Linked DNA regions of Homo sapiens. The protein of the gene in region 2 purifies or fractionates together with the protein of the main gene of each other region. This does not show direct contact. Each region holds a gene or a part of one and is shown on either strand. Other genes may lie near its edges. The genes, in order: CMBL, AKR1C3 and HABP4.

Region 1 (3,653 bases), on a different chromosome or scaffold from region 2:
TTGGATGGAGCTGGAGGTCATTTCTCTAAGGGAAGTAACTCAGGAATGGAAAACCAAATACTGTATGTTCTCACTTATAAGTGGAAGCTAAGCTATGAGTAGATTCACAGAGGCACATAGAGTGATATAATGGACTATGGAGACTCAGAAGGGGGAGGGTGGGAGGGTGTGAGGGCCAAAAAACTATATATTAGGTAAACTGTACACTACTCGGTGACAGATGCACTAAAATCTCTATTTTCATAGATGGTGCTCATAAAAATATTGTTTGATATTGATCATCATCACATAAAGAATGCTATCCCCGCTGGGTGCAGTGGCTCACGCCTATAGTGAGACCCCATCTCTATTTTATTTTAAAATTTTTAATTAATTAATTTCTTTTTTTTTTGAGATGGAGTCTCGCTCTGTCCCCCAGGCTGGAGTGCAGTGGTGCCATCTTGGCTCACTGCAATCTCCGTCTCCCAGGTTCAAGCAATTCTCATGCCTCAGCCTCCCAAGTAGCTGGGACTACAGGCGTGCGTCATGACACCCAGCTAAGTTTTTGGTTTGTTTGTTTGTTTTTTGTATTTTTAGTAGAGGCAGGTTTCACCATGTTGGCCAGGCTGGTCTCAAACTCCTGATCTCAAGTGATCAGCCAGCCTCAGCCTGCCAAAGTGCTGGGATTACGGGTGTGAGCCACCATGCCCGGCCTAAAAATTTTAATTACAAAAAAAATCCCAGCACTTGAGACCAGCCTGGCCAACATGGTGAAACCCCGTCTCTACTAAAAATACAAAAATTAGCCGGGCTGGTGGCAGGCGCCTGTAATCCCAGCTACTCGGGAGGCTGAGGCAGGAGAATTGCTTGAACCTGGGAAGCACAGGTTGCAGTGAGCCGAGATCATGCCACTGCTCTCCAGCCTGGGCTCCAACAGAGCAAAAACAAAAAAAAATTTTTTCTCCTTTGTGCCAGGGGAAGGATTCCATTGGCCATGGAGAAGTCCTACCCCAAGGTAAGGAGTAGTGTCTGAAAGGTGAAGCCCACCCAGCTCTCACCTCCCTGGGCCACAACGTGCACATGGCCACGTCTGCGGATAACTCACCTATCGATCTTCTGGGCATTTCTTGTTTTCAGCCACTCAGGGAAGATAGACCAGTCGCCAGAGGGGTCCCAAGGCTCTTGCCCTACAAAGAAGTCTGGAACAATGGTTCTGCAAAATATGGACATGAATTGATCTTAGTTTCAGAGTTGCTTGACTCAGTATTTTGCTTGCATTTATTTAAAAACTTGCTACGTTGGCGATTCTGGCTCAGAGAAAAGGAAAAGTAGTGGGTGTGAAGGCCAATTTTGATCGCAGCAAAGCAGCCACCTGGCACCGGGCCAAGCCCTCTTAGGTTTCACAACCGCAGGTGCACAGCGTCTGGCAGCCTGCTGGTAACCCAGCCCTGGCAATGAGGCTATCCACAGGGCACACTCCCATGGGATAGGCTGGCATGGGATGTGGAGGCACCTGGGGGAGTGGGCCTGACGTGGGTGGCTTTGAGGGCCCCTCCTGCCCCTCTCAGCCAGCCTGGGGAGACTCCTGGCCTTTCACATGAGCCTCAGGCCAGAGGGCACACCTGGCTAACTTGTCCAGTCACTATGACCAGGCAATGTTCCCAGCCTCCACCAAGACGGCGACGAAGCACAGTTTCCTATCCAGAGGGTATGTTCTAAGACGGGCAGCAGAGCACAAACAAGCCTGGCCCCAGTCCAGGTCGCTCTTCCATGCAAGTCAACCCAGAGGGATAGAGCCAGCCGCTGGGGTTGAGTCCTGTTTCCCAAAATAGAATTGCCACCTGGTTGGAGGAACAGGGCTCCTCCTATAGGGGTAGAAGAACACTGAAACTGGAGTGAGAAAATCCAAGTTCGAGGCTCGGTACACCCCATGCTGCTGTGTGGCCTTGGCCTTCACAAGTCATGTCACCGCTTCTAGCCTCATTTTCTCATCTGACAAACTTGCACTGCCTAACCCCAGAGGATCCTCTCGAGGGCAAAAAAAGTTGTATACCTGTGAAAGGGCTTTGTAAAACAGGGGTCTTTCCTTATCTTTTATGTCCTGACCCCTGCTAAAGGACCCTCCGTGAAACAACAGAAACAGCAATGCCATTTGATCGGCTGCTTGGGCCAGTGATCTGGGGCAGCCGCAAAGCGCTCTCTTTATGGCCTGGTTTCCTAATCTGCAAAATGAGAGCAATAACAGCTCCTCCCTCAAGGGGCTGCCAGGAGGACTAAGGGCAATGAGCCCAGTCATGCCCTCAGCACTGCGTCTGGCTGAGCAACTGAAACTAGCTATTTATTTACTTATTTATTTTTACTGGGCTTGCCCCTAGAAAGTTAAGTCCCCTCACATGGGGACGTGAAAAAGGAAAACTTCAAGGAAGGTCTTTTCATTCAGCACCGACTCTGCATCCCACCAGGGTGGGCATGATTCCTTTAAGCCAGTTTCTCTTCCTAGAAAAACAAGGTAGGCTCATCCTCGGGTTTCCAGCTTCTCCTTCTGTGAAAACAAAGGAAATCCAGCCGTGCACCATCCTCAGGGCTCACTGGGTTGATGCTTTCCGACGCTGGAGAGGAAGGAAGGTTCTGGCCCTCCTCTGCGCTTTACACCGGGGCAAATAAGAAGCAATCGGGTATCAGCCTTGGCCAAAGGTGGCCATGGCCACTTGGCCAGACAAAGAGGTAAACTTGGGGAGGGGAGCAAGGTCTCACTGTGCCACTTCTGAACCCCAGTCTAATTCAGAGGGGGCCACGACCGTACGTGTATGGACCAGGAGGAGCCTTGGACACCCTGCCGTCCAAATGGGCCGTGAAATCTGACACGAGGCTGAGCTGTTGAAGGACCGAGTCACGGGTCCATTTGACAGCAGGTGAGGCTGGCCTCAGATGTCCAGTGCCTGCGTCTGGCTGAGGCCCCACACGGGAAAAGAATTCTCAATGTCCAGCAAGTCTAAAGGCCAGGTACTCCCAGGAGGACAGGAAACCCAGGAATGGGGTTAGGAGCACCAGGTGGGTGTTTAATTTCCCAAGACATTTCCCATCTATCTTCACGGCAGTGAGATAGGGAAGTTTCTAATGTACAGTAGATACTGTATAGTCAGACCGCTGTGGTTTTATTTTTTAAAGGGAACAAAATAAACCACTGAAATTTGTATGAATTTAAACAAAGAAACACAACTTTATACATACGTGTATCCATTTCCTGAGATCATGTCAGCTATATATCTGGTATTGGGCAACTGCCAGCCAAATATATCTTGAATGACAATCACAGCTTTGCCTGCATCAACGGGGGATTTGGTGACATAAGCCTTGATGTGCTCGACTTGAACTTCACGGCCTAGCCCTCCATACTCAAGTCTGTGGCCAATGTCACACGGACAAGGATAAGCTTCGTTAGCCATTGCAGAGATTTAAGTCGGGCTATGGAGAGAGAAACATGCGTTATATTCTGAATGCTGCAAATCTAAAGGCTATAAATGGTAAGTAAACCTCAAATCAAGATTATAGAAAAAAATTCATTTTAGCTACATCTATGGTATTATGTGAGAAACCAATGGTAACTTCTGGTTCTGGCAACACTGCAGAGTAAGGCTATAGACACTAGAAATGCCGGATTGAATAACAACAAA
Region 2 (3,653 bases):
TATCTGCATAAATACATATAATATTTTCAAAATCTCTTTAAAATAAATTGGAAAGATGACAATTCACCTCTATAGACCTAAATAAAGTATGTCACAGAAATGAAGACATTCTTCCAGCTACAGTATAATTATTGTATCTAAGGAAACGAACTGCAATGCCCTCATGTCGTTTAACATCCAGTCTATATTTGAATTTCCCACTGTTTAATGGAAATGTCTTTTATAGTGCTCCCTTTTAAAACAGAATGGAAACAAGTTGTGAGCTGATCTGTTCTTTATAATCATAGGTTTCCCATTCAGCAATTACTTATAATCCACTGGGTGATAATTCCTAACAGAAGAAGTCATATTCCATGACAAATTTTCACATATGATTGTGTAAACATCACTAATACTTTTGTATTTAATGGTTATTTATTATTGTATTTATTATTTTTTGGAGTTTTTAGATAATCATTTTCAATTTTAAAACCTTATTTAACTATTCTTACGTGACATTTTACTATGAAAAAAAATCCTTCACCAAATCAAAATGAAGAACAAATATTCCTCAAAGACAAAGTTTAATACTTGCCTCTAAATATCAATTTCCTAAGAGATTACTATAATAACCACCAATGGTGGAGGCAAATTATTTTGTTCTTTCTTGCTCTCTGATTATCTCACTCATTACTCTGGACTTGGACATTTTTCCTTAAGATTTTTAATTAATTTTATTAATTTTTGTTAGTGCTCATTCTTACCCAATGGGTAGATTTTTTTCTTGATGCTGAAATCTATCCAAACATCACCAGTGACATTTCTTTGAAAGTAGTGCTTTTGTCTTTCAGACTTGCACTCACGAGTCCTTGACCAAATTCTTGCTTTCTGGCACAATCTGAAGCCCAAAGGCTCTAAGAATCTTACTGTATCCCAGATATGGAACTTGTTACATCTCCTTCTAGTTGTCAAAGGTCTTTGGAAGCCAGGATCTGATTCATAGATGAGCTTCTGTTCAGAAATGGCATTTCCATTTATACTTTTAGAAGATATATAAAATTTATTTCTATGAAAAAGGTTATTACTTGACAATAATATCCTCAGCTCAAATATAATGCTATACTGATTATTATTCAGCTTCCTTACTTTCATCTTTTCAATATTAACATAACTATTTCATATAAATTGATGCTTCTCTCTTTTGGTCAACTGCAGGTAGAATGTCATCCGTATTTCAACCGGAGTAAATTGCTAGATTTCTGCAAGTCGAAAGATATTGTTCTGGTTGCCTATAGTGCTCTGGGATCTCAACGAGACAAACGATGGTAATAAAAACAATGGGACCTTTACATAAACCTTCATTTTGCAGAAAATTTTTTAGTCAGAGCATCCTCAGTTTCCTGTAGTTAAGTTTCAAGTGGCTCATGGAGAGGAAAGAGAATTGCATTTCTGACGAGATCTTGGATGATGCTGATGGTGATGCTCGGGGGCCTCGCTTGAGAAGCTCCGGTGCAGAGTGGATGCCTTAGTCTGTTTAGGGAGCCGCCTAACAAACTATCGCCAGCCTCAGGGCCTCAGCCTTTCTGCCTTTCCTTCCAGGGTGGACCCGAACTCCCCGGTGCTCTTGGAGGACCCAGTCCTTTGTGCCTTGGCAAAAAAGCACAAGCGAACCCCAGCCCTGATTGCCCTGCGCTACCAGCTGCAGCGTGGGGTTGTGGTCCTGGCCAAGAGCTACAATGAGCAGCGCATCAGACAGAACGTGCAGGTGAGGAGCGGGGCTGTGGGCCTCAGGTCTCCTGCACAGTGTCCTTCACACGTGTGCTTCTTGTAAGGCTCTCAGGACAGCCTTGGGCCAGCTCCATTTCCCTGTATTTCCCATATGAATGCTTTGCGTGCATCCTGAGGGTTTCTTCTACTCTACCACGGGAGAGGCAGCACAGGTGCAGAGAATTAAGATGGGACCAAAAATGGAGATTTTTTTATTTCAGCATTAAGTTGACAATCTACTCTGCATCCCTGCACCAGGAACATCATTTTTTCATGTTGTTTGTTTGGTTTTGGTTTTTTTTTTTTGAGACAGAGTCTCATTCTGTCTCCCAGATGGGATGATTCTCCTGCCTCAGCCTCCTGAGTAGCTGGGATTACAGGTGCCTACCACCAAGCCCGGCTAATTTTTGTAATTTTTAATAGAGAAGGTATTTCACCATGTTGGCCAGGCTAGTTCCAAACTCCTGACCTCAGGCAACCCACCTGCTGTGGCCTCCCAAAGTGGTACTACAGGTGTGAGCCACCGCTCCTGGCCTCCTCTTCATCTTCAGAAATGTGGAGTAGCATTAGGTGTTCTTTAGTCTACCAGTCATTGTGGATTTTTCATTTCCATTTCTTCGTACGCTCAGTTAAAATTTCACATATTTATTCACTTGGAGTTTTCTGTTTGTGTACTGCCTGTTTAAGTCTTTCTTTGACTCTTAGTTGCTTGTCTTTTTTTTAAGTATAGGAGACCATAATTATACTATTAAATAGAGCTGTTAAACAAATCACCCTCAACATAGGGGTTTAAGATGAAAACCACTGATTTACTCAGGATTCTCTAGTTAGAAAATTAGCATGGCCTCAGCCTGAACTTAGTCAAGTTCTGTTCTTGGCTGGGCTCTCTCATGTGTTTGCAGGACAACGAGATAGCTCTGCTTCAAGATGTCAATGGGACATTTGTCTGGGTGCCATTTTCTCCTCCATATAGTTCATCCTGCAGCCATCCAGCCCAGACTTCACCTCAGCACATGGCATGACCCCAAGGCAGTGAGTGGACACATGCAAAGCCTTTTCATGTCTAGGCTCAGGGCTGCCACGCCATTGCTTCTGGCAAATATTACCCACATTACAGGACAGGCCAGACTCAAGGGATGGGTAAACAGACACCACCACTTATTGGAAAGAGCTAGAAATTCATATAACCAAGCAAGTGGATACAGGGACATGTGAGTGTTGGAGGAAGTGTTTCTTATTAATCTATGATGGATTAATATATGATAGGTTAATATATATGATAGATTGATATATATATTATAGTTTAATAAGATATATGAGATAGATTACACATACATACATATATATATTCTGGGTATTAATCGTTTAGAGATTTAGATGTATTATTGAAGTACCACCTCCCAAATTGCATATGTGCTGTGGTTTTCTCTGTAGTTATGTATTCATGAACAAAAGTTGCTACTTTTCATGTAGTTAAATTATTCATGCCTCTTTCCTGTGGTTGATGAGTGGCATGTCTTTTCTTATATTGGGAACATGACAATCTTTTAATATGTTATCTTGCAAAATTGGTAATTCTCTTTACTTATAAATTAGTTGTAAATTCAAATGAATTTCTTTTTCAATACTAAGTAAAATAAAAACCCAAATATGCACATGGAATTTCTAAATTGATATCAAAAGGTGCCACCAACAATTATTGAAAAGCATTCACATTTGCTCACATATCTTGATTTTTTACTCTACCATAAATGAAACATTCATTCACAAATAATATTCTTGCCTCTCTTTTGTCTTCAATTGACTTATTTACTTTTCTGTACTGTCTAAATAATGAAAGGTCTTGCTACCAGAATGGTACAACTTTTTTTCTAACTCTTTATTTTATTTGATAATATCTTGATTAT
Region 3 (3,653 bases), on a different chromosome or scaffold from region 2:
TGAGACCATCCTGGGTAACACGGTGAAACCCCGTCTCTACTAAAAATACAAAAAATTAGCTGGGCGTGGTGGCGGGCGCCTATAGTCCCAGCTACTGGGGAGGCTGAGGCAGGAGAATGGCGTGAACCCGGGAGGCGGTGCTTGCAGTGAGCCGAGATGGCGCCGCTGTACTCCAGCCTGGGCAACAGAGCAAGACTCCATCTCAAAAAAAAAAAAAAAAAAAAAATATATATATATATATATATATATATATATATATATATATATCCATTAACTTGAATAAATGTCATAGCTATACAACTAATGTGGAGAGTAATTTGTACCAAGAAAAATTGAAGCCACTATAGTAAATATTGCACATAGTGAGAGGAGATCTTTTAAATGTATATAAAAAAAGATAGACTTTTTTTGAAGATTAAAGATGTGACAAAGTTCTCCACAATGTATTTACCAAGTATTAGATGGCTTCAAACATAGACTTTGCTTAAGATGTTTAAAGCATTAAAACTAAAGGGGAGTAAAGCAAGGTGACAGGACAGAGGAAAAGACCAGAGTCTCGGCCGGGCACGGTGGCTCACGCCTGTAATCCTGGCACTTTGGGAGGCTGAGGAGACCAGCCTGACCAGGTTAGAGAAACGTCGTCTCTACTGAAAATACAACATTAGCCAGGCGTGGTGGCGCAGGCCTGTGATCCCAGCTAATCTCTACCCGGGAGGCGGAGGTTGCAGTGAGCCGAGATCGGGCCATTGCACTCCAGCCTGGGCAACAAGAGTGAAACTCAGTCTCAAAAAAAAAACACAAGAACAAAACCAGAGTCTGTGGTCCCAGCACAGTGTCCAAGTGCTGGACTGAGTGGACAAAAAGAGATGCCCTCAAGTACTGGCTGACTCTTGGGCAAGTTGCCAAATAGCAGTGTTTGGTTCATATTCAGGAAGTTATAACTGCAAGTCTATATATCTCATAGAATAGCAGGAAAATCTGTTTTCAAAGTAAAAATATAAGCACTACAAACTTTAAAAACAAAAACCTTGGCCAGGCGCTGAGGCTCATGCCTGTAATCCCAGTGCTTCAGGAGGGTGAGGTGGGTGAATTGCTTGAAGCTGGGAGTTCGAGACCAGCCTGGCCAACATGGTGAAACCCTGTCTCTATTAAAAATACAAAAATTAGCTGGGCATGGTGGCACATGCCTGTAATTCCAGCATCTTGGGAGGCTGAGGCATGAGAATTGCTTGAGCCTGGGAGGCGGAGATTGCAGTGAGCCAAGATTAAACAGTGCACTGCACTTCGGGCTGGGTGACAGAGCAAGACTCTGTCTCAAAATAAGTAATTAAGTAAATAAATTAAAAAAATACAAAATAAAAACAAAAACCTTAGTAGCCAGTGATAAGCCATAGTTGCTATGTAATGTGCAGTTGGGATTCTAAAAGTACAGTCTGAAATATAGGGTATTCTTTCATTTTCTAGGTACGGCTTACACACTGTGTTTTTGTAAGACTGCTTTTGTGAACTGTAGCTTATTTAGTAAAATGTACCCATGGCTGTCACAGTTATTGGGAGATGCCTGTAATTATAGGTGAGCTTAGTTGGTCATATACTTTCTAGGATATAGGGAAAGCATGATTTAATAGTAACATCCTATTAAAAAGTAGACTGTGGGCAGTTGTAGTATCAGCAACTTTTTTCTTTGAAGTTTTCTAAACTTCCTGAATTCTCCTATGACGTTGATTTCTAGAAAAATGAAATTTACAAGTACCTGTAAAGTTTAATAGTGTGCTGTTGCAGATGTTGTGTTCCAGCTCTCTGCTTTGATTTTCTGTTGGTAGGCCAGAAGCGGACTCCTAGAAGAGGGGAGCAGCAAGGATGGAATGACAGCCGTGGGCCGGAGGGGATGCTCGAAAGAGCTGAGCGGAGATCCTACAGGGAATACCGACCCTATGAGACAGAGAGGCAGGCAGACTTCACAGCTGAGAAGTTTCCAGATGAAAAGTATGTGCTGCAGTCCTCAGCAGGGCGGGTGGGGAACCAGAAAGGTTTTGAGAAAATGCTACTTTCTTTTTCTTTTCTTTCTTTCTTTTTTTTTTTTTTTTGAGACAGTTTCGCTCTTGTCGCCCAGGCTGGAGTGCAATGGTGCGATCTCGGCTCACTGCAACCTCCGCTCCCGGGTTCAAGCAATTCTCCTGCCTCAGCCTCCCAAGTAGCTGGGATTACAGGCATGTGCCACCACGCCCGGCTAATTTTGTATTTTTAGTAGAGACGGGGTTTCTCCATGTTGGTCAGGCTAGTCTTGAACTCCCAACCTCAGGTGATCCACCTGCCTTGGCCTGCCAAAAGTGCTGGGATTACAGGAGTGAGCCACCATGCCCGGCCCAGAAAATACAACTTTCTACTGGCTACTGCTTTTTGTGGTACCAGTCCTAGGAATGTTTTACTAATTTATGTGCAATTCATGTTACCTTAGATGATGGGAAGGATCTTCCTTTTTCCTCATAGATGCCTTTACGTCTTGGTTCAGGAAATGATTGTACAATTAAAAATGAATTGCTTGTTGGTAACTGAAGAGCACTCTTAAAAAGAAATTACACAGGAGTGTGTTGAACTGGTTTTCTTTTGAAGTTCTAGATTAGAGATATAATTTTGGACTAGGGATATAATTATGGTTTTTGATTTCACATTACCAATTTAGACTGCTCAATGGATTGAAATAAATTCCTAGCTCCACGGTCAGGTCAGTAGGCTGCCATGATGAAATTTGAAGAAGAGTCTGTTATGATGTGTAATACCAATTTCTGGAGGGCATGGCTGCTCTCCGAAGTACTCTAACATGGACAGAAGTCGTGGGCTGGTGGAGTGTTGCGTCGCTGCTTAGTGATGTGGCAGCATGGTGGCCACCGCACTCCACCTCAACACGGGGAGGGGTTGTGTCTTATGTTTGGCACTTGCTGCTTAAAGTCTTTGTTTAATCATTAAACCTGTTTATGTTAAACAGAAACAAGTAGTGAATCACATTTCAAGGAAAATAAAGTTAAACAAGCTAAGGAAGACTAGAATAGTGAACAGTTATATGTCAAGGGAGCCATTTTTCCAAACTCTTTCTGCTTCTTGACTGCTAATTCCATTCCATTTAGGATTCTGGCTACAAGTTTTAACCAAAAAATGTGGCTTTGTAAAACTATACTATAGAGCCTATTAAAAACAAAACAAAACAAAAGTCCAGCAGAGAGTAACTTAGCCTGGGTGGGCTGAGCAGGTGATGACTCATGCAGAACTGTTCACCTGGAAGTTACACATTCAAGACATTGAGATAGTCTATCTGCAACCATGTTGGAGGGAGAAACTTACAGAAAGCCTTAATTTTGCACCTTTTTTGGTGATTACTTCAAATCTGCTGTGTAGTAAGCACAGTCTCCTTGTTTCTGCAAAGCTTCTTGTAGCAGAGCTGCTTATTTTTGGAAGCATTTGGGTATTTATTTTCCCCTCACTTTAGGGATTCTGTGGAAATGAGGAAATTATAGTTCACTTGCACAAACCCATGTTTCCCCCCTTTTTTAGTAGCAAGACTGTGTAGTCTTTAAAAAGGATAAAATAGATCTTTATATGTGACATGAAAAAATAGCTATTAAGTGAAATAATACATATATGGAAGAGTAAGGTGG

What was found.
Region 1: the proteins of AKR1C3 (region 2) and CMBL fractionate together in Homo sapiens (co-fractionation; one large-scale study listed by BioGRID). This does not show direct contact.
Region 3: the proteins of AKR1C3 (region 2) and HABP4 purify together in Homo sapiens (affinity purification with mass spectrometry; one large-scale study listed by BioGRID and IntAct). This does not show direct contact.

What each region holds. Positions count from the first base shown.
Region 1 is NC_000005.10:10,287,338-10,290,990, forward strand, and holds part of CMBL (carboxymethylenebutenolidase homolog), read right to left. Parts: intron 3,445-3,653; 5' UTR 3,426-3,444; coding exon 3,211-3,425; intron 1,193-3,210; coding exon 1,085-1,192; intron 1-1,084. UniProt on the Homo sapiens protein: Cysteine hydrolase. Can convert the prodrug olmesartan medoxomil into its pharmacologically active metabolite olmerstatan, an angiotensin receptor blocker, in liver and intestine. May also activate beta-lactam antibiotics faropenem medoxomil and lenampicillin.
Region 2 is NC_000010.11:5,100,907-5,104,559, forward strand, and holds part of AKR1C3 (aldo-keto reductase family 1 member C3), read left to right. Parts: intron 1-1,194; coding exon 1,195-1,304; intron 1,305-1,578; coding exon 1,579-1,744; intron 1,745-3,653. UniProt on the Homo sapiens protein: Cytosolic aldo-keto reductase that catalyzes the NADH and NADPH-dependent reduction of ketosteroids to hydroxysteroids.
Region 3 is NC_000009.12:96,456,556-96,460,208, forward strand, and holds part of HABP4 (intracellular hyaluronan-binding protein 4), read left to right. Parts: intron 1-1,823; coding exon 1,824-1,986; intron 1,987-3,653. UniProt on the Homo sapiens protein: Ribosome-binding protein that promotes ribosome hibernation, a process during which ribosomes are stabilized in an inactive state and preserved from proteasomal degradation.